3 linked regions of the Homo sapiens genome follow. The protein of the gene in region 1 interacts with the protein of each later gene in a pairwise test. Each region holds a gene or a part of one and is shown on either strand. Other genes may lie near its edges.

Region 1 (7,973 bases):
TTTGTCAATTTAGAACTCAGTAAGTCACCTAACCTAACCAGTTTGACTGAAATGACTAGAAGAAAAATGGCTAAAGAACAATCCAGTAACTGAGGAAGAGACAGTCTGAATTTCTGTACTAACTCTGATCCAATTCAGTCACTCATTGCTATGGCTGGGCAGGGATCCAAGTGAAACTTTTAACAGTGGCCAATAAGGTGGCATAGAGTTACTGCCTCTAAAAACCACAACTTGTCCCTAAGCTTGAAACCCAACCATAAACTTCCTCAAATCCATGTGGACGAGCACCATGTTTTTAAGCAGCCCACTCTCCTCAAACTTGAATTGGCCTGCAGAAGACAGGTATGCCAACTTCAATGACTCTGCTCTGCATCACTCTCTCGGTTGCCAAATTGAGGCAGAAACATCCATTTGCCTTCCTGTAGCTTTCTAAAATCTGTCTACAGTGTAATGAGTTGTCTATACACTTTCCCTTAGCCCAGTTTCAGTAACCTTGTAGTCCATTCGATACACAGAAATAGAGCACGCACCAACCTCAGCCACAGGCCCCTTTCTCTCCCAAGTTCAGGCACAGTACTGGCTAGAACTCTCACTAAAAACACAAACACCAAAACACAGTGTACATCAGATGCATATGGGGTAGTAATGCTTTTAACAGTTTGCTTACAGGAGCAGTTCTTCAACACTGATAACAACTGGCAAAACAACCTCAACATATGCTCTGCCTAGATAATGCAGGAGATCCTTAAATTTCTCCAAGTTAGAAAATTCAGGACAACAGCAATATGGTGTTAGAGACTTCAGATCTGTGTCAATCAGATATAGCCTTGCTGCCACCTAAAGATGTGCTCGCCACCCCACACATGGCTTTAGCAGCAGTTCCAAAGGCCAATGCATTCACTCTTGGAAGACAGTGTCAGCTGTCTTGACACTGCTGCTGGCTACATTTAACCAACTCTATGATGTGGTACCAGAGCCCAAGAAATACATCAAGCCAGATCATTCTGTCCAAACATCCCAAGGAAACATGTGCCTTGGACAGCACCTGAGTGGGAACAGGCTGCTAATGTTGATATAAAATGCAAAATAGTAAAAGTAGCATTTTCTCTAATTTACTATTCAGTGAGAAACCCATGCAGAAATCCAATGCAGCAAATTGTAGAGGTTCAATGCTCCCTGATCTGCAGTTAAGCCAGGTGTGCCACCTCCTTCATCTGACTTGGATCCTGCTCTGGACTTCAAGGAAACATCTACCTGGCTAGCAGTTCAAGGACTCGATATAAAAATAACTCATGCTTTGTTTCAACTGGAGGGTCATGACACTGTTGGGCCTACAGGAAAACCATTCATAAGTCAATGTAAGCTCATATCTACTGAAAGAGTAGATTTGAGTTTTTTGAGTAGATATGAGCTTTTACACCCTAAGTTACAATGAAAAGATTCACTGAAGAAGGATTCAATCATGCTGTACTACTTCCTGGAGTTGGCAGAGAAATCATCCATTTCTTGGTAGTTGAAAGAAGGCTGATCCAAGAACACAGTGAAGAGATGTTCCCATTTCTCAAGGTGTTTCATCTTCCTGGCCATGATGATTTAGCACCTGCAAAATTCCCAAACCTACGCAATGTGGTTAATGCGGGGAAGCAGACATTGGACTACCAACTTCCAAAGAGTCACTATCTCGACTAGCAGATCATGAGGTAGATGAGGCAGTTTCAAGACCTCCCTTGAAGAAGGCAGTGATGAATAAAGAAGAGGAGGATGGGTTATGAGCAGCATTTAGTGTGACATCTGAAGAGATCAAGATGCCACTATCAGACAAGAAAACCAATAACCAGACTAATTTCACACAGCTTCTTCAGGCAATGGAATCAAGAGATAGGATGCAGACTTAGAAAAAAAGAAAGAAAATTCAGCAGGAGTTAGAGGGATCTAAAGGAGTTGTATATTTATTGCCTTCTGTAAACCAGGAGTAAAGGAGATAATTAAGGTTTTAAATAATCCAGTTTCTTAGTCACCAAAAGTACCAAGACTTCCTCCTATTAATGAGGCTGAAGGCTCAGTTTAAGCTGTTCTCTGCCATCTGGCCCTTGTACTTGGGAGACTAAAGCCACTGTGGACATTTAAATGAGAGAGATTTGCACTCTCTCATTTTTCACAGCCTATGCTACAGCAATCATGACTACTTTTGGATAAAACAAAAGTTCCTTAAATAATATACTCATGGCATTTTTATTTTCTTTTCTTGTTCCTACACTGCCCAACAAAAAGAGTCTCTTCCAATGTCATTGAGTTTGCACCACATTCTAGAATAATAAATGGAACTGGATCATTCTGAGAACTATATTGTAAAAAGCAAATATTCTACTTTAAAGAACACACTTTTTTTGGTTTGTTTTTTAGACAGAGTCTCACTCTGTTGCCTAGGCTGGAGTGCAGTGGCATGATCTCAGCTCAAGTGATCCTCCCACCTCAGCCTCCCAAGTAGCTGGGATTACAGGCATGTGCCACTAGGCCTGGCTAATTTTTGTATTTTTTGTAGAGGCAGGGTTTCACCATGTTGCCCAGGCTGGTCTTGAACTCCTGGGCTCAAGGAATCCACCCACCTCAGCCTCCCAAAGTGCTGGGATTACAGGCATGAGCCACTAATACCCAGCCAAGAGCACACATTTAGGATAGAACTTGAGCATACTTTTGTTCTGGAAGAGGACAGAAATAGAGCAAGGGACAGGAAACAACAAACAAAACCCAGTAGCAGTGAGTTAGCTTCTGTCCCGTCTCCACCCTTGTAAGTAGGACACTGGCTTAACAATTAGTTTTATTATCAGCCCTCACTGTTTAAATCTTAGCAGAGAAAAAGAAAAGCTGTTGAAGAGAATAAAATTAAGAAACATAAAAAGGGAAAACTTGATTATCACCAGTTTCTGGATTTTTAGTTTTCTTCTTCTAACTGAAGTTCACTCAGATCTAGGGAATAGCATTAAGCTTAACGTGAAAGTGGGGGGAAAAATGTGGCACATTGAAGTGGCAGGTAGCTGTAAAGAGAAGAGGGAAGCATTTTTAAACTGTAGTAAGGTTTATCCGAGAGTGATTACTTTTATAAGGAAGAGATTCTATGAAAATGCAGCAAGGAGGCTGGTCCGTGGAGTACCACAAAGCTGGGGAACTGCAGTTTTCATGCTGATTCTCTATCTTTACCACTCTGGGTCAATTGTGGCAGAGAAGCTGTTTTATCTTCCTTGGGCATGGGAGAGGAAAGGAGGAGGGATGCATATGACTCAGTTTTTAAATCAGTACCTTACAGGGTTATTTAGTAAAGTGGTAAGGCTTCTGTAAAATGCTTTGAGTGACTAGGAAACAAATCAGAGGCAAAATAACAACATAAAATAATAACACCAAACATCAGAGAACTGAAGGGAAGAGGAGCGAGTCACTGAAAACCAGGGACACCAGTTGTCCAGGTCACCAACAGCTTCCTGGTGCTCCCCCACCCCACAGTCTGCTGTGAGCTCTTTCACCTAGAATGAGCCTAGAGAATGGCCTAGTGGGGCAAGGGACCTAGCACTGGCTCTCAGCCACAACTAACACCACATCCCAAATTACCCCTCCAGAACAGATGCCGAGGGACACTAGAAGCGAGGAGTAGTTGGGATACTTTTGCTACACCTTCTATCTTGAGAGAAAGAGATTTAAACCAATAGTATAATACATCAGTTGAAATACATCTGACGATAATAACAAAGATGCATTGACCTATAAAAAGTCATTTAATGCATATTCCAGATGGCCAATACAAGCTGGTTAGGTAATTAGCCCTTGAAGAATTCTTTTATAATCATATAAAAATGTTTTGTCTTGTTTAAAAAAAGTCTACTCTAACAAAAACATCCACCAATGGGCTTGCATTTTTTCCATTTGCAGGTTTGTAAGATCATAAAAATATACACATATGCATCTCTGGGCATATCTCTGTCCACTAGCTAATCAGTTTTGGCAATACACTGCATAGGGGTATACTACCATTGGTTTCTGACATTAAGTTAGCTTTAAGCTTATTGGCTATTCCAACAACTGGAGGCAGCTTAGAACCCAATCCCTGGAAAGCACTTGCAGGATTAACTACCCGTTTCCCTGACACCTTGTCTATGGTGGTGAGAGGTCTGGGGACAGACTTGCTAATCCAAGGGTGTCTTAATGCTTGAGCTGGGGTCAAGCGGGCAGAGGGGTCCCAGTGAAGACACCTTTTCAAGAACTCTATAAACAAGTAGTCATCACACCCTTTCAGTGCTGTCCCCCAGTCTTTGCTGCCTGGGGGACCCCGCTTTTTACCCCTACGTGAGCGACCCCCCACAAGCACAACCCTCCCATCTGCCTGGGTAGTCACAGAGCAGTAGCGGGGTATGCCCTTGGAATTAATAAAGTACTTGGCACGTTTGGATTGCTCCAGAAGTTTTGGTGGTGGCATCCCTAGAAGCTCCATCATGCAGGCCAACTGGTCTCCTTCATCCTCTCCAGGGAAGAGAGGCTGTCCTGTTAAAAGTTCTGCAAGGATGCAGCCAAAACTCCATATGTCAATTGGTGTGCTGTAGCGGCTTCCTAAGATGATTTCTGGAGCTCTGTAGAACCGAGACTGGATATATGTGTAGAGCTTCTGGTACTCGAAACAGCTGGACCCAAAGTCAATGACCTTGGTTGAACTGCGCCCGTGGTGTTTCAGGAGAATGTTTTCTGGCTTCAGATCGCAGTGAATAATCTTATTTTTGTGGAGGGCATCCAAAGATTGCAAGATGGACTGGGCAAACTTGCGTACCAACTGGACGCTAAAACCCTGAAACTTATTTTTTTTAATCAGCTCATAAAGGTCTATGCTCAGCAATTCAAAGGCCATGCAAACATGGTTCCGGAATGTGAAACTTTCCAGCATGTGGATAACGTTCATACTACCAGTTTTATCCTGTTTCTTAAGATGCTCCAAAATCCGGATCTCCTCAGCTGCTTGACGATGAAAGCGCTTCTCATTGCGCACCATTTTTAGGGCCACGTACTGTCGAAGTTTGTGATCATAGACCCTGGCCACCTGCCCAAAACTCCCCTTGCCAATAATTTTCAGCACCTCATATCGATAAGCTAGATGGTCTCGAGGTACATGAATATAGGCCCCATCTGCATCATCATACCCTCCATTATTGGGACCACCAATAACTCCATGTCTTTTCTTGGCATTTGGACCTACAAAGTAAATTTCTGGATAATTAATTATTTCCAGTTTCTCATAGGCAGTGAGGTGGTGTTTATATTGCTTCAGGGCTTGTTCTGGAGTCAGAGGCACCACTTTGGGTGCCTTGGATGAACTGTTGGATTTTACTGTATTCAAGCAATCTGAACTTTTACCCTGAGAAACAGTAGGAGAGCATTTTTCAGAGTCACTGATGCCATCTGACTGAATAGTATTGGATTTTCTGTTGCCAAATTCTTGAAACAGCTGTTCTACCTTCATCTCACCTCCATCCAAAAAGTGCTGAGTATGATCTCCTGTAAACTGCTCAGTGGTCATCTATGAAAGAGAAAATGAATATAAGTCATTAAAAACATTAGAAAGATGGAAGAATCCTCCCTCCTCCAACTGAATAACAACAAAACATGTCCAGTCATGTTTACTTTAAGGTTAAAATGACCCAAAAAGAAGATAAGAAAAGCAAGAGTCTCTAGCAACTTGTGTTATATTAATTTTCAGACTCCCTGAATATTGCGGCCATCCCTAACCCCCATACATGCCTTGCTTTGTTCAAGACAAGATGATCTTACCATGCCCCCCACATGCCAGGTTCCTTCTTACAGATGTGTCCTTGTACTGAGAATCCTTCCACCCCCTCATCCCCTCGACTCCTACATTCCTTCAAAGCCCAGTTTAATTCCTCTCTCTTCCACTTAGAACTATGCCAAGCCCATACTAATTAATCTTATATCCTAACTGCAGCTTCTCCAGTTTGTGCCACATAATTTGGTACTTGATTATGTATAATATATGCACTACCTTACACTGTTTACTAATTGTTTCAAGTATCTTCCCAAATATTAAGGACATATAGCATGATGAAAATAATGCATACTGAAGTGTAAACAAGAAGGTACTATCAAGTGACAGAAGCAGAATTTGAACCAGAATAGGTCTTCTGGCTCCTATTCAAGGGCCCTTGCCATTAACATAACTCAGCACCAGGTTCTCCCAGCACCTGTAGACTAGCAGGGCTGAATGTTGACTATGGCCTGGAATCAACAACGTGCTCAATCATCTACTCCCAGGTCCCCATATAAATTACTGTAGCCTTTTAACTCAGTTCATTGAATCACAAAAGCTCTAAGTTAAAGAGAACTTTTGAGATCATCTGGACCAATTCTTCAAGTACCTGATAACAGTGAGGGTCCAAGGTCCCTGGGGTACTTATAAAACTCTTCCCTAGCAAGAGCCTACTTGATAAAGGAGTACTACTCCTTTCACCAGGTTTTCCACAATCTTCTCCTGGAAGGGATACTGACCCACAGAAAAAAGCTCTACTTACACCTCTGAATTAAGATTCTTTGAACTGAAACAAGGTTTTTTGAAATAAGATGGAGGAAAAGAAGGACAAAAACAACCAAACACCTAAGTAAAATTAATATTAATTAATTACTATTACAAAAAAAGGGTAACTATGTGAGATGATAGATACATTTAATTGGCTTGACTGTAGTAACCATTTCACTATGTGTATCAAAACATCATACTGGACACCTTAAAAAATAAAATTTTTTGGCCACGTGTGGTGTCTCACGCCTGTAATCCCAGCACTCTGGGAGGCCAAGGCAGGTGGATCACTTGAGGTTAGAAGTTCGATACCAGCTTGGCCAACATGGTGAAACTCTGTCTCTACTAAAAATACAAAAATTAGCTGGGCATGATGGTGCACACCTGTAATCCCAGTTACTTGGGAGGCTGAGGCAGGAGAATTGCTTGAACCCAGGAGGTGGAGGTTGCAGTGAGCCAAATCATGCCACTGCACTCCAGCCTGAGCGACAGAGTGAGACTCCGTCTCAAAAAAATAAATCAATAAAATAAAAAATAAAATAAAAACTTTGGCCAGGTATGGTGGTTCATCCCTGTAACCCCAGAACTTTGGGAGGCCAAGACGGGCAGATCACTTGAGGCCAGAAGTTTGAGACCAGGCTGGCCAACATGGCAAAACCCCACCTCTACTAAAAATACAAAAAAAAAAAAAAAAGCCAGATGTGATGCATGGATGCATGCCTGTAATCCCAGCTACTTGGGAGGCTGAGGCAGGAGAATCGCTTGAACCTGGGAAGTGGAGGCTACAGTGAGCCAAGATCACGCTACTGCATTCCAGCCTTGGCAACAGAGTGAGAGACTGTCTCAAAAAAATAAAATAAAAAAAGAAATAAGTGAAAAATACTAAGAAGGGGCTGGAAAGATAAAAATGTTAAATCTGTTCTTAAAAATAAAAGGAAGTCTAGGATAAATAAAAGGAAGTCTAGGATACTTAAAAGAACAACTGTTTTTCTCAATGGACCCTGAAGAATTATGTCCTTTATCTGTTTGATAATTTCAGAGAGCCTGTAGTAAGAGGAACAGATTAATTCCGGAGGAGCTCTGGGCTACAGTTATAATCTCTAAAAATGTAAGCTAAAAAGTAGTCAAACCTTTAAAAACTAGAAATTTTAATATAACCTAAGCAAAACAAAAATTGTATTTATAAATTACCAAAAATAAATAACAAAAAACAATATTAAAAAACATAAATGACAAAAATTTAAGTGTTGGCATACCTCAGACAGCCCCCGTAATTCAGTTATAAAAGTCCTGCTTGCTCCTTTTTAAAAGTCATTTAATCAATTTAAATATTTATAGAACACTTACAGTTACATGATGTATTATATGATCTTAAACAAAGTCAAGGAGCCAGTTCAAATGTAGCCAC
Region 2 (7,656 bases), about 140 Mb from region 1:
ATGGAGTTTAATATTTTAGAAGAAGCATCCGTAGTAAAATGTTCAGGGCTGCTGTTTAAGCTATTTAAATCCACATTTTGGATACAGACTGCATCTATAATCAATCTATAAAGAAGAGAAGAATGATGTTTTGATGCACCTGTAATCACAGAATCATGACATACTGGGTCTGGGCAGTTAGCATTTTACAGAGAAGGAAACAGGGCCCAGAATGTTATGTGATCAGACAAAGGTCACAAAGCCAGGATGACCGACCGCCCAGTATTCAGCTCTCTGGTCAGTGCTGCTTTTGTCTCATCAGAAGTCTCCCCAGGGGAAACGCCCAGTGGGGTCTCCCCTAAGTACTGGCTTCACCCACACTGATTAGTGGTTCCCCTTCCCTTCTAACACGTCTTTTATTTCTCTCTAGGTATCTTTAAACTATTTAAAACCTCTGAGTGACTTAAAAAAAAATTCCTTTCCCTTTGAACATGAAAAGTTACCTGATAAGTTCCATTCACTGTTTGAGCGAGATTTGCTTCCCAGAATGTTTGCCTTATTTCCAGGAAAGCAATGTCAGCTTTGCATTCTGATATTTGAGGAAAAATCAAATCTATGATTTTGAAAACTATGAAAGTACAATAAACTTTTATCTGGGTAATGAGGTACTTCAATTGTGATTCTATATGTGGATTATCAATTTTTCCAAAAATTGGAATTACACTGTTCTTGGATGACATAGAAGGTATTCCAGGACCTGACAGGCCTAACATATGATAGTGTGACCTCAAACCAGCTCATAATTTCAAATGCAGGACCTGATGGTAGACGTGCTGGGCTCAAATGCTAGCTCTAATTTGGTGGTGAGATCTTGGACAAGACTGCTAACTTCCCTGACTTTCCATTTCCTCTTCCTTAAAATGAGGTCTGCTGTGAGGATCAATTGAGATGGTGAATGTAAAAAAACACTATACAAACTACAAACCACTATATGGATATTAGTGGCTATTTTCTTGTTAGCTGAAGCAAAGTCAGCACCAATTCTATAACCATCTCCCCTCTACAGAAAACAACTGCATGGCCCAGTGAGTGGGAGCAAAGGCTCTGGGTTCAAATCCTGAGTCAGCCATTTACCAGCTGGGTGACCTCAGGTAAGTTACTTCTTCGTCCTTTGGTTTTCCCACCAGAAAAATGGTGTTAAATACAGCATTTACCTCATGGGGTTCATCTGAGAAGTAAATGAATTAAAACATGCAAAATATTTAGTGTCTACAACAAAGTAATGTTCAATAAATATCAGCTATTATTATAAGAGCCTAGAGATATATTACAGCCTACTTTCCTCCCTGGCCTTGACCTTTTATTCATTCATTCATTCTTTACCTTTTATTCATCAAACATTTCCTGCACACCTGACATATTCTAACTAATGTTTTCCCTGGTCCTCATCTGTTATGACTTTCATTTTTCAACTTTTTAAGTGTGATCTAACAAGCCACCTCAAAGCCTTTGTACAATGAAGTGATATATAAACATTCACTGTGTTTGTGTGGGCAAGAGCGATCCAGTCGTTGAAACTCTAAAATTACTTCAAACTGCTCTTTCACCCACACTCTGTGCACACTGCAAAAGAAAAGTGATCCTCCAGAATGATGTCTTGAGTACTTCCATTGTTATTCATTAACACTCAACTATTCATTAACTTTAAAAAATTATACGTGTATGTGTGTGTGTGTGTTTGTCCTACTATGTGCCAGGCACGCTATGGTCAGGCAGAGTCCAGATGGTGAACAAAACAGTCCTTTCTCTGCAGAAGTATACAGTCTAGCAGGGCAGCCCATCAAGAAAACAGCTACTAGAACACAGTGTGGTAAGTGCCAGGAGGAGGAGGCCCAGGGTGCCAAGGGAGTGCGGAGAGGGGCATTGAATCCAGAAAAAGCCAACCATCCCCTCACACAAGAATCGCTCAGCACACTCTATGCATCAGATGCCCATGCTGAAAGGGAAGGACACGTGTTCCAGGCACAGTGAAGGGTATGGTGAAGACTGGGACGACCTAAGACAGGAAGGCCAAGGGAATGGAGACACCTACCGGTCCAGAGCACCACTCGTGGGCATGCTCCGTGCAAAGCCGCGGACCCCAGTCTGCTGGAAATACGGAATGCTGAAGATGTTGGCAGCAATGACAGCCACAGAGTCTGAAGGGTTCACAAAGAACCCATGCTTGCCCAGAATCATGTTTCGATCCTTGGGGAGAAGAGAGGATCAAAGAAAGACCTTTTAATCAAACTATAAGAAATCAAACTATCTTTCATGGGGGTTTTATAAAATGTAAAACTATAAAATTTGAAATTGATCTCCTTTCCATACTGCATTTTTAACACTGGGTTTTATTTTCAATGAGTTTATACAGTACCATTGGGCCGAAGGCACCTCCATGCCAAAAAGTTAAAACTGTTTTCAATTAAAGTCCAAGCACAACCTCCTTTTGAGCTGAGTCCTCTGTTCTCCCTCCAGAGGCCAGCTAACTTTAACCTCCTAGACTTTTTTCAGACTCTGGAACCAATCATCTTTTTCCCAGGGGAGGGGAAAATGCAATGAGAGAAGAAATATTGGCTGTTTACATAGTTTGGTAGGTCTACTGGGTAAACTGTGTACCACAGTCTGTGTACCACAGTAACTGGGAGGGTGGCCAAAAAACACTCCCAGAATGCACTCATCACAAAGATGTACTACAGAATAATGTCTGCTGGAACCCCTTTAATTTCCCAACATTTTGATAAGGGAAAAATCATTTTTCAGGAAACAGTGGATTCTAGCTAATGGTAACACTAGCAACAACAAAAATATATTTTCAACTAAGTAAATGTATACAGTGCCTACCATCAGTGAGATACCAGGGATATAAACCTAAGACACATCTCTTCCTTGTCTGGTACATAGTCACCCTTGTAAATAAAACAGCTTATTTCTAAACATTTTAATGGTAGAGAATGATTAAAATGTTAATTCTCTCAATATCATCTTCATATAGGCAATGAAATTACAGCTTCAATATTCAGCTCATGTGAATGAATGAATGGGTGTATTATAAGACCAAAATCTTGTCCAGAGATTAAATAAGTAGCCAGCTGCTGGTTGAGAGCAGAAACCCACCTTAAGACAGGCATCTAGAACTCACCCAGCTCAGGAAATACCAGTCATTCTATCATAATCAGAACCTAATCATCGTGCCATTGTTAGCAAGTATGGATGTCTGAAATTAAATGTGTGGGTTTCATTTCAATGACTCCTATTCCTGTTCAAGAGGGGCTTCTAATAATTTAGTTCTGACCTCGGGTCAGAATGAGGGATCCTTAACAGTTATTCCCTGGGTCTGGCAGAAGCAGCCCACTTTTTTCCCCATCTGCAGGATCAGGCCTGGCCTGCACCAGAGTTCACTTAAATGCACTTATACCCACCCCATCTCCATCAAAGGCAGCCCCAAAATCATGCTCTCCTGACTTCATGGTCTCCACCAGGTCAGCTGCATAGGTGAGGTTGGGGTCAGGGTGGTGGCCTCCAAAGTCCTCCAGAGGAACGCAGTTAACTGCCGAGTTCGCAGGGGCACCGAGTTCTTCACAGAGGATCTTCTTTACATACGGTCCCACAACTATATACAGCATGGAATAAATGTATGCAGAATCAGAAAATAAAACTCCTTAAAGTATGTGAGGATTCAGGGGTGAGGTGGATGCATTCTGGGGAGAAGAATGGCATGAGAAACAACAGGAATGTGTGAAATGTGTTCAGGGACTAGTGGAGAGATACGCCTGACTGGAGAAGAATGTTCTCTAAAAAGGAACAATGAGAGATTATGTTGGAAAAGGTGGGGCCAGTTCATGAAGGGCAGAGTGGGGAAAGGAAAGGAAACCAACCATTATAAAGGCCCTGCGGTATACCTGTGCTTTCCCATTCAGTCCTTCAGAAAAGCTCAGAAGGTTGTACAGCTTAGAGCTTAAGAGCCTGGACTCTGGAATCAGAGTGTCTGGGTTCAAATCCCAGCTCTGCCAGTCATTGGCTGTATAATAATTTTGGGAAAGTTATTTAAACTCTCTGTGCCTCAGTCTCTTCCATCTGCAAAATGAGGGTAGTAATGCTAACTACTTAACAGGATTGATGTAAGGATTAAATGAGTTAATAGCTATGAAGTACTGAGAATAGTACCTGGCAGATATGTTATAAATGTTTATATTATGATTATCACCTGCAGTTTACAGATACATTGGAATGTTGGTGTTCTGAGGTAAAGACATTTGCCCAAACTTACATGGCTAGGAAAAGTGGGAATTGGGATTCAGAGCTGTTATCTTTATATTATGACAAGCTAGCTGACAAACTGATTAAAAAAACACAAACAGGCCAGGTACGGTGGCTCACACCTGTAATTTCAGTACTTTGGGAGGCTGAGGCAGACAGATCACATGAGGTCAGGAGTTTGAGACCAGCCCAGCCAACATGGTGAGACCCTGTCTCTACTAAAAAAAAAAAAAAAAAAAAAAAAAAAAATATATATATATATACACACACACACACACACACACACACACACACACACACACACACACACACACAGAGACACAGACACACACATGCATACACAAAGATTTGCCAGGCCTGGTGGCGGGCGCCTGTAATCCCAGCTACTCAGGAGGCTGAGGCAGGAGAATCGCTTGAACTTCGGAGGCGGAGGTTACAGTGAGCTGAGATTGCACCACTGCACTCCAGCCTGGGCAACAGGGCAAGACTCCGTCTCAAAAAAAAAAGAAAATAAAAAACCCACCACCAAAAACAAACAACAGGAGAAGCCAGTTACATATGTTTACAGTGACATTTTATATAACTACCAAGAACACGCATCTCTGAAATGCTGAGAGAGTATTTTCATCAAGGATGGTACTAATCCCAATACAGTACATGCCCCAGAGGTCATAACACTGTAGAATAAATGTGTCCTATGAGGCATCACCTATTAAGCAGGTTACTGACACACCACAGAATGAGGTCAAGGCAGCCAGGGCTGTGAGGGATATAGAAACGAAAGCATTAGAGGAACAGCCAAAAGACCTGGAGAAAAGTAGTCTTCTTCCGGAGAAGCTCCTCTTACCCAATGCCCTCCTCACATGCCCCATTATCCAGCCAGCCCAGGCCTCTCGTTTCCCTAATGTGACATCCATTTTTAAGCCTTCATGCCTTTGCCACAGCCACCGACTCCATGAGAATGACCATTGCTTGATTTTTCATCACTCTAGATCTTTCTTTCATAAGAACTGAGTTGGATGCCACTTCTTCCAGGAAACCTTTCTTTATACCTAGTCAAATTATGCCTTCTTCCAACCCCAAAGAGAATACTTGAAATTCCAACTCTCATTTTGTTGGCCTGGCAGGAGTTAGTTTTTTAGGGATTTTTTGTTTTTTTGAGACGGAGTCTTGCTTTGTCGCCCAGGCTGGGGGGCAGTGGTGTGATCTCCGCTCACTACAACTTCCGCCTTCCGGATTCAAGCTAGTCTCCTGCCTCAGCCTCCTGAGTAGCTGCGATTACAGGCATGTGCCACCACACCCGACTAATTTTTTGTATTTTTATAGAGACTTTTATAGAGATGGGGTTTCACCATGTTGGTCAGGCTGGTCTTGAACTCCTGACCCCATGATCCACCTGCCTTGGCCTCTCAAAGTGTTGGGATTACAGGTGTGAGCCACCGCGCCCGACCCCGGGGTTAGTTTTTTACCCACTTCGTCTCCCCAAACATTGCACATTCTTTGAAGAAAGTAATCTGCCCAGTTCCTGCCTATTCCCCAGGCATGCATTTTGCAGGTATGCAATACACATCTGTTGAATGGTTTAAAATGACAGAATCGCTTTTGTCTGAGTAAGGAAGTAGATCCATTCTATGGGAGTCCAGAGGCCAGCTAGGACCCAAGGGGAGAAGTTTCAAGGATGGAAGGTTTTAGTTCACCAGCAGAAGACTTTCTGTGGTTTGCAGTGTCACAGGAATCCCCGAATTGCATCACTAAAAGGGTTCAGTTGCAGGCAGAAAGGCTTCTCCAACCAGGCAGATGTATGTGTATAGGTTTCAGGGATTCTCATATACCTACATGTCTGAGAAAACCCTCGTGGTTCTGGTTCACAGTGATAGCTGCCCTCTCTATGGACCTGACCACACAACCCACGGAGGAAGAAGAGAGGGCTGTACACATCATGTTGCTCCTGAATTTAATCCTCAGCTTGCTCTTGCCCTCTTCTAAGAAAACGAGCATTTGGGGGCAGGTGAGTGGGGGTGTGGGGCTCAGGAGTATGTTTATCACATCTCCCAAATGACCGTCCTCTCAGAAATACATGGGGGCATGCAGCAAGAATGTAAGGTATCTTCTGAGGGGGAGGGAGAGTCCACAACAGCAGTTGCATGTTACTCAGAACCTGATGCTTAAGGTGGAAACACTGACCTTCACACGAGCTTACCACGAGGAGTGTCTCTACTATTTTTGCTACATACAATTAGATTTTTATCTGTGTGAATATTGCTCTGGTTGCAAAATAACTCTATTTAAAAACCATCAGAGAGACTTGAGAAAAGGCTTGTTGAAGCATCATGATACACACAGAAGAGGGCAACTTCCTATCCTCAAGAGATGGGAATTGAAAAGAAATGATTGTATACCTCCATGCATAGCATCAATACGGATCTTCAGTCGGTTTGGCCCAGAAAGTAGTTCTTTCAGTGCACTGAAATCAAAGATGCTTCTCAGCATTGTAGCATAAGCTTCTACCGAATCCACAATTTCCACTGTGAGAACAAGCAACATCAAAAGATGGAAGGATTAAACACATTTAGAAATATTATATTCTGATGTGACTATATTGCTGTAAACCTGCTATTGCTATTTTAAAAGGACAATTATTGAACAGCTCCAATAATACGGCTGTTAAGTGATATCCGATACTATCTAATACTACCAATCCTTACCCAATACTAACAATTTTCCTGAGAGGTAAATGTTATTAGTCCTATTTGATAGATGAGGAAACTCGACGTGTGAAGGGTTAAGAAACTTGCCCACACAGCTTGGATGAGGCACACAGGGGATTTTCAACAGAGGTTGTATAAATTCTGCTATGCCACCACAGTGCTTCCCCATTCGTCATCTTGAGAGGTGTGTTTTGGTGTTATAGAGAGTAGAAAATGTAATCCCCACTTTTCTTTCCTTTTCTTTTTCCAAGTCCATTGTCATCAAGACTTAATGGTACTAAGTGGAAAATGAAATTTTTTAATGAATCACTTTTCACAGGTACTGCTTAAGGAATAAAACAAAAATAAAACTTATATAAATATAAGAACTTAGTATTGTTGTTCTTGTTGGATGTTCAAGGCTTCTGAACATTTTCAAAACTGCTGGATATTCAGGGGTTCTGAACATTTTCAAAATATGAAGAATTTAAGAAACTCCCTACTGGAATCTTCTGAACCTCAAGAATGTCTTCGAGATGACCAAAGTGTCACTTTATCTTTGTTAGGATGCAATTGTCAGCTCTCCCTGAGTAGGTTCAAACAAAAAAATGCAATCCATCCTTTAGCCAGGAACTAAATGACTAATAAAATGCATTCCATAAAGTTGCAATCCAGAAGAAAGAAAACATGT
Region 3 (7,656 bases), on another chromosome or scaffold:
ATTCAGTGAGCCATGACTGTGCCACTGCAATTCTGCCTGGGTGACAGAGCAAGATGCTATCTCAAAAAAAAAAAAAAAAGGCCGGGTGCAGTGGCTCACGCCTGTAATCCCAGCACTTCTTTGGGAGGCCGAGGCGGGTGGATCACGAGGTCAGGAGATCGAGACCATCCTGGCTAACACGGTGAAACCCCATCTCTACTAAAAATACAAAAAATTAGCCGGGCGTAGTGGCAGGCGCCTGTAGTCCCAGCTACTGGGGAGGCTGAGGCAGGAGAATGGCATGAACCCAGGAGGCGGAGCTTGCAGTAAGCTGAGATCGCGCCACTGCACTCCAGCCTGGAGGACAGAGCGAGACTCTGTCTCAAAAAAAAAAAAAAAAATTTCCCCCCAATAAATGTATAACCCATAAATTCAATTTAATCTTAATTAAAATTTCCAGTGGCTCTTTGATGAAGTTAACAAGAATAGGGCCTTGCCCTACTAGATATCCAGTCTTAGAACAGACAAATAAAGCAATGGAAGTGTTGTGGGGGCATTTTAAAGGGAGAAAATAAAGGATGAAAGATGGCCTTTAAGCTGGGAAGAAGGAAGTAAGGTTTATACACACAGCAGAATATTATTCAGCCTTTAAAAAGAAGGAAATTCTGACACATGCTACACCATAAGGTGGATGAATCTTGAGAACATTATATAAAGTAAAGTAAAATAAGCCAGTCACGAAAGGACAGATATTTATAATTTCACTTATGAGGTACCTCGAGTCATCAAATTTATAGAAACAAAATACACTGGTGGTTGTCAGGGGATGGGGGATGGGAGAATCAGGAGTTATTGTTTCCATGTGTGGTGACTGAAAAAGTTCTGTTGATAAAAAGTGGGGATGTTTGTATAAAAATGTGAATGTACTTAATACCAGTGAATTGTACGCTAAAAAAGGGTTAAGATGGTAAAGTTTATGTAATGTGTATCTTATCACAATTTAAAATTTTTAAAAATATAAATGACAGGAAAATATTAACTGAAGTTAAGGCAACATTTATTTGATTTCCTTATAATCATATTATCTAAGGCAGAAGTGGTGGTTACTTGGCAAGAATACGATTTCTTTTAATGTCTTCTATAGTTGAGTTTTAGCTCAGAAATACATCATATTTCACTGGTTCAAATCTGAGAGAATGTACTTCTAGCATGGGCTCCTATTCATGATCAATGCATTTTTGTGTCACCATGGCTTGATCAAACTTAATCACTGTTTCAATGGCAGGGCATGGCCAGTTGTGGCAGCTGCTCTGAAGGTCACTTGTTTTACTGTGGCCTGGCCAAGTAGAGTAAGGATGGGTCACAGTGAGCTCACTGGTCTCTTCAGGCTGTGCTCTGAATGATGACAGCAATACCTTGGCCACCTCCAATGCAAGCTGATCCAACGGCATATTTTCCACCTCGACGCCTGAAAAAGAAAGCAGTGACTGAAATCTACTCTAATAAAAAATCAGATTAATGAAATAGAACTAATAACATCACATCTGCATTACTCATCCTTATTCAGCTCATCTGCTCAATCTTTTCCCCAGTCCTCAATTTTGGTATAATTACAACAGGCAACAGACTTTGGAAAGCTGAAAGTTTTTAATCAAAAAAAACAAAAAACAAAGAACAAAAACAAACACCAGAAGAGGGAGGCAAACTAAAAAGGAGATGAGTGGATTTAGGGTTATAGAGTAGATTTAGGGTATATGAAACACATACAGAAGCTTGTGTGTGTTACGGGAAAGGAGTGAGAAGAGGAGGTAACTGGATAAATGGGAAGCTGGGGAAGGGGATGAACATTAAGCTCCTTTGATTTATATATTTGATTTATATAGTGTGAGAGCCTCATGGCACCTTAGAAGAAATGTAATTAATAAAGTTTGTCCCTATGAAAGGGCAGATAATTTAGAAACTATCCATGTCCCTTTCATAAAAATTAGACTCTTTTAAAGTACTCCTCACTCCTAATATGATGACTTCGAGAAAATTATCCAGGAATTACTTTTGTATGTGGCAATCACCTATTTCAACTCAGGGAATCATTAAGTGAAATAAGAGTCACATTTCCCCTGGCCTAACAGGGAGTCAGAGTAATTTTTCAGCCTGACTTACTTGGTTTTGTTTGCAATTTTTCTACAGAGCAAAATATTCCAAAAATAGAAGAGCTCCTCCTTCTGGTACTATCTATCAAAACTGAAAAGCACCAAACACCCAAAAGGTTCCTCCTGGAACCCTGCAAGCAGTGAAAAGAAAAACTTAGACCCAAATGTCAGTTTGCTTAGATTTCATAAATTATGGCATCTAGATCAGTACTCACTCAGTACTTTTTTTTTCTAAAATAGATTTATTTTACTCCTGTAACTGGCACTAAAATACAAGTGCCATGAGAAGCAGGGCCTCATTATCTGCTCATGCAGTGAACACAAGCTGAGTGGGGCACACAGTGCACAGAGACTGGACACACAGAGGAAGAGCTTGGTTCTTAAGTGCAAAGCCACTAACAAGGTGACTGACTCATCTATGAGACCAGATGAAAAGCACTGCCCAAGTAACTTGTTCCTGGTAACAGCCAGTGCAGGAGACATGAAGAAGAATGAAAAATGTTGGAGTGTTCTGGGGAAGCCTAAATCCATGCATTTCTATAAAAAACAGCAAATCTGAAATGCAGCTATTTCTAGCAAATACCTTAATTCGTGAACCAGGTGTGCAGTAATTCTTGATCCAGATCCTCCCAGTGGGTGACCCAAAGCAATGGCTCCTCCATTCACATTGGTTTTACTTATGTCAAGATCCAAACTCCTCTCAACAGCCAAGTACTGGGGAGCAAAAGCTTCATTCACCTTAAAACAAAAATTAGAGCACTAACAAAAATCCTTACTCACAAACTAATTTTTAAATGAGAATGGTCCAGTCCTATCAACAGCTAAGTCTGCTGTTTCTTCCTATTTAAATTACCTCGCAAAGTTATTTTATCTACAATCATTCTGCATAAAGCTATCAGGTTTAAAATGTGTATATTTACTAAATAATACTTTTAGTCAAATGCATCCCTTAGAGGCAATTCTCAGTAATCCCATAAATTGACACATACCAGACACAGTGGGATACTGTAGAAAGCCCACAGGTTTTAGAACTGGATGGATGGTTCAAATATTGGCTATACCATTTGTTAGGGTGTGACCTTATGCATATTCTTTAAACTCTTTAAATTCACGTTTCCGCGTGTGAAAATGTGACTGTGGTATCATGCTAAGAGTCACTGTCACAGTTAGATAAAATCATGAGTATTAAGTGTCCAGTGTGTTACCTGAAACATGGCAAGTACTCAATAAGTGGTTGCAAGTATTATTATTATTATGCAGTACTAGGAGCTATCCTTCCAAGAAGCTGACACACAACAAAGAATAAACCTTCAAAGCCACGTACATAAAGGGAACAGTTACTATGTTGAAATGTGGCAGAACTGAAAAGTATATTATGTTATACTTACACAAACTGGCAATTACCTTACTTCAAGTTTACAGTACTGTATTATCATATGATCTTAATTCAGGAATTTTATAGATAAGGAAACTCATTCTAAGAAAGGTAACTTTTGCAGAGTTGGGATAAAATTCAGTCTTGTGCTCTTTCCTACTATACTTTGTGGTCTCTCAAGATGGTGCCTCATATGTGCTTAGATCCACCATTATCTTTCTACTCTATATACAGAGCCATCTTCAAGGAGGTACTAAGAGACCTAGAATAGGTAGTGAAACTAGGCTTTTGAACCTAGGAAAACTATGGTCTGAGTTATGTCCTTGAGAATGTATACATTTCCAAATGATTATGAACAACTTCCCAAAGTTGATATAGTTTAATAGTTTTAAATGTGAGGTCTAAAGTGAGAAATTTAGTGGTACCTATTTGCTGACACAAATATAATAAATTAAACAGCCTCTTTGAGGCTCTGAACTGTGATCTGCTAAAAGTGGAAGAGATTTAAAGATAAACCATTTGTCTGAAATCATGGTTTCCTGTGTGAGAGATTATCATAGAGGAAATCACACCTGTGCCTACCCCTTCGCTATCAAGTTAAATAGATTTCCTTTGTTCTATTAGTTATTTCCCAATGCCAGGCATCACATGCTTAATCACCTAAAATTTTCAAATAAATATTCCAAAAGTGTGGAATGTATATAACCATCTTTAAATGTTTCTCCACCTCTTCTTTTAATTATGCTTAAGACACTTTAGTTCTAATACTAACATTTAAAAAGAAATCACTCAATAAATTTAAGTTCCAGTGTCAAAAATTATGATAGGTGCATCCCAAATCAAGCTACAACTATCGTATAAAAGCCAAAGATACATTTAAGGGAGGGGGCTCTATCTGGCGAGAAGGGCAAGAAACTTGTAGATTTGGCACTAAATATTGCTTTTCTATTATGTCAATTATTTTACATATATTTTTTCACTTTAATATTCAACAGGCATGTTAATAGTCTAAAATGTAACAGTTTTATAAAGTAGTAAGAAATTCCCAGGAATTTATACTTGAGTAAGAGAAATCAGGCAGTTTGAATATTCAAATATAAATAAAGCATGTTAACCAGGTGGGGAAAAGTATCAACACAAGGCATCTAATGAAGGTACTATTTATTTAGATGTACATCATTTGGAAAGGCTAACTACAATGAAATTCAAAGAGCAATGAGACCAAATTAAAGTCATTTATGCTATAAAAGTACATGGTTTATTCATGTTGTTAAAAAAAAAAAAAAAAAAAAAAACACTTACCTCTACCAAATCCATGTCCTTAAGACTCAGTCCTGCTTTCTTCAGTGCCCCACTGATAGCAGGGACAGGACCTATATAATAATAAAAATCTTCTATAAAAATATAGAAATAAATGTCATCTTATATTTACGTATCAAGCTTCTCCTTCTTTCCAAGTAAGGAAGAAATAATGCGGCAGTTATTAGTAGCCACAAATCTTACTACCTTGACCGTACCTATTAAATGAAGTGACCATAAAGAGGCAGAAAAAGGGCCCAGGCATGGTGGCTCATGCCTGTAATCTCAGTACTTTGGGAGGCTGAAGTGGGAGGATCACTTTAGCCTCCTGGGCAACACAGCAAGACCCCATCTCTAAAAAAGAAAAAAAATAATAATAAAAATAAAATGGAACCAAGGTGAAAAGTTGTTTATACATTCAAACTGCAGATAAGAGAATTACATGAAAAGTTCTACCATAAACGGCTTTAAGATTGAAAACAGCCAAAGGAGTCCATATATGGGATTTTAGTTATGTTAATAGATTATAATTGATATCAAAGAGCAAGGCAGACTGAGTGCTCTACTTGGGATCCAAGCCATATGCATTCACAGCACAGAAGTTACTGTGGCTACACTCTGAATTTTCAGGCCCATTTGGATAAAAGACAAGAAATAGCAGTATCTCCACATGGGCACAGAGAGATGGGAAACTACGAGGCACTTCAGGGAAGGTTTTATGAAGTAAGGTGATGTTTACAACTCCAAGGGTAGGCAGGAAATTTAAATAAAACATAACTCCTAATTTAAGAAATGCAACTCCATCTAATAAGACTTCTGAAATAAACTTTAGCTCCCAGATTTCTGATGATGTAATGAGAGTTTAATATTGCTCATAATTTAAATCCATATTTTTTCTCAAAAGGTAAAAAATTTGGGTAGAGAAGATTATCTACTTCTCGACTTGTTCTTAAAGAATGAAACTGCCAAAAATGTCTACAAAGAAAAATATGTAGTATGTTCTGCTGAATTCAAGTAGTCAAATATTCTGCATCAAGTTTCACAAGCATTTTACCTTATAAAATGGAAAATCAGTCTTTACAAGAAAGGCATAATGAAACCTAAATATAATATTTATTTTGTCACGTAGTTAAAATACTCTTTGGACAACAAACCACGTGCTTATTGATTAGGACTATCCAGTTAATGCACTTCAATTTAAAATGCCAGTTTCATGTGGCTACTGATTTACTACAGCTACTGATTTACTACAGGATCTGATTCCAGATTCTCTTTGTATGTCTAAAGCATGAAATCATGAAAATGAGATGGGTAGTCAGTAGTAAAGCATCAGTTATCCAGCCTGGTGAGGGGATGAAGTAGCCAACAGTGGTGACAGACACATAAAAGGTGGACAATGTTCAGACCACTGTACACACTTCCTTGTCTGCATAAACAACACAGCAAGCATGACTCGTACTTTCACTTTAACTCAGAATCCACCGTAACAATATGCTAGGCCATAACTCGATTTTTAAAGGACTCTTCCCAGACCACTGTTATTTACTGGGACTTCAGGAAGGTTTAGTATTCTTGTTAGGAAAAGGAGACCTTATTTCTAGTCCTGGTTCCTGTCACTAATAGCTGTGCGACTTTGTGCATCTCTCTGGGCAACAAGCTACTCATCAATAGCACTCTGAATGGGTTTTCCACCTTTTTCTCTTTAAGCATCAGAATTCTTTTTGCATATGATGCCAAGTAATAGATAATGCCAGACTGCTCCAGCTGAAGAGGCTCAAAGTTCCACCCACCAACCTCTACCATTGCCACCCCTGAGGAGTTCCAGGGAGTGCTGTCTTTCTATAGCTGTGTATTTCCTCAGAACCAGTACTATTCTTTTCAAGTCATGGCTTTCCCCGTTTTTTTTTGGTCTGCAGCTATTCTGCAGGGCTAAGGATTGCTAGTCATTAGGTAATCATGGAACTGAGAACCACTATTCTTGTAAGTTAGATTAACAAACCAGTTCCCACTAGATACTTAATAACTTATTCTCCCCACTTATTCATCTGGGATGCTTCAACGAGTTACTTTGTTTAATCCCATCACTATATACAAGTGACAGCCAAACTTCTAGATGAAGGGGGCAGCTGATACTGTGGGACATCTGGAATGTACAGCTCTGTTCAAGCCCCGAGGAAAAATGACAATCCTACCACAGGAGCATTCTTTGTACTTTAGGGCAAATATTCAGGCCCAGGAACAGAAGGAAGGAAAACAACGCTTTCTTGGTTCACTGGCTATGCTAATCTACCAGAACCTATTAAATAAAGTTAAACTGAAAAAGGAGTATAAAATAGCCAACCCATGTCACATACATTTGTTTGATCATCAAAAGCATCTAGGTGTATGCAGGAAAAAAACCAACTCTGCTCTTGGGCTGGGCATGGTGGCTCACGCCTGTAATCCTAGCACTTTGGGAGGCTGAGGTGGGCGGATCACCTGAGGTCAGTAGTTTGAGATCAGCCTGGCCAACGTGGAAAAACCCTGTCTCTGCTAAAAATACAAAAATTAGCCAGGCGTGGGGGCGGGCACCTGTAATCCCAGCTACTGGGAAGAATGAGGTTGCAGTGAGCTGAGATCACGCCACTGCACTCCAGCCTGGGTGACAAAGCGAGACTCTGTGTCAAAAACAAAAAACAAAACCAACTCTGCTCTTGGGCTCCACTCTGGACTTACTGAAACAAAATCTAAGGGTGTGGGGGTTATGAGTGGATTCTGACAATCATCTGAGGTTGGGAACCACTACCCTAGATATCAAAATAATAAATGCCATAACAACATACGGATGTTTAATTTTTCCACCACCTTCCATTT

Evidence for each region. The genes of interacting proteins can lie anywhere in the genome.
Region 2: the proteins of DYRK3 (region 1) and PGM1 interact in a two-hybrid assay, tested with the Homo sapiens proteins (one study listed by BioGRID).
Region 3: the proteins of DYRK3 (region 1) and ACAA2 interact in a two-hybrid assay, tested with the Homo sapiens proteins (one study listed by BioGRID).

The regions. Positions count from the first base shown.
Region 1 is NC_000001.11:206,644,969-206,652,941, reverse strand, and holds part of DYRK3 (dual specificity tyrosine-phosphorylation-regulated kinase 3), read right to left. Parts: intron 5,555-7,973; coding exon 3,977-5,554; 3' UTR 1-3,976. UniProt on the Homo sapiens protein: Dual-specificity protein kinase that promotes disassembly of several types of membraneless organelles during mitosis, such as stress granules, nuclear speckles and pericentriolar material.
Region 2 is NC_000001.11:63,630,804-63,638,459, reverse strand, and holds part of PGM1 (phosphoglucomutase-1), read right to left. Parts: intron 6,804-7,656; coding exon 6,678-6,803; intron 3,632-6,677; coding exon 3,441-3,631; intron 2,227-3,440; coding exon 2,072-2,226; intron 1-2,071. UniProt on the Homo sapiens protein: Catalyzes the reversible isomerization of alpha-D-glucose 1-phosphate to alpha-D-glucose 6-phosphate. The mechanism proceeds via the intermediate compound alpha-D-glucose 1,6-bisphosphate.
Region 3 is NC_000018.10:49,782,485-49,790,140, forward strand, and holds part of ACAA2 (3-ketoacyl-CoA thiolase, mitochondrial), read right to left. Parts: intron 4,878-7,656; coding exon 4,807-4,877; intron 2,868-4,806; coding exon 2,713-2,867; intron 1,448-2,712; coding exon 1,363-1,447; 3' UTR 1-1,362. UniProt on the Homo sapiens protein: In the production of energy from fats, this is one of the enzymes that catalyzes the last step of the mitochondrial beta-oxidation pathway, an aerobic process breaking down fatty acids into acetyl-CoA.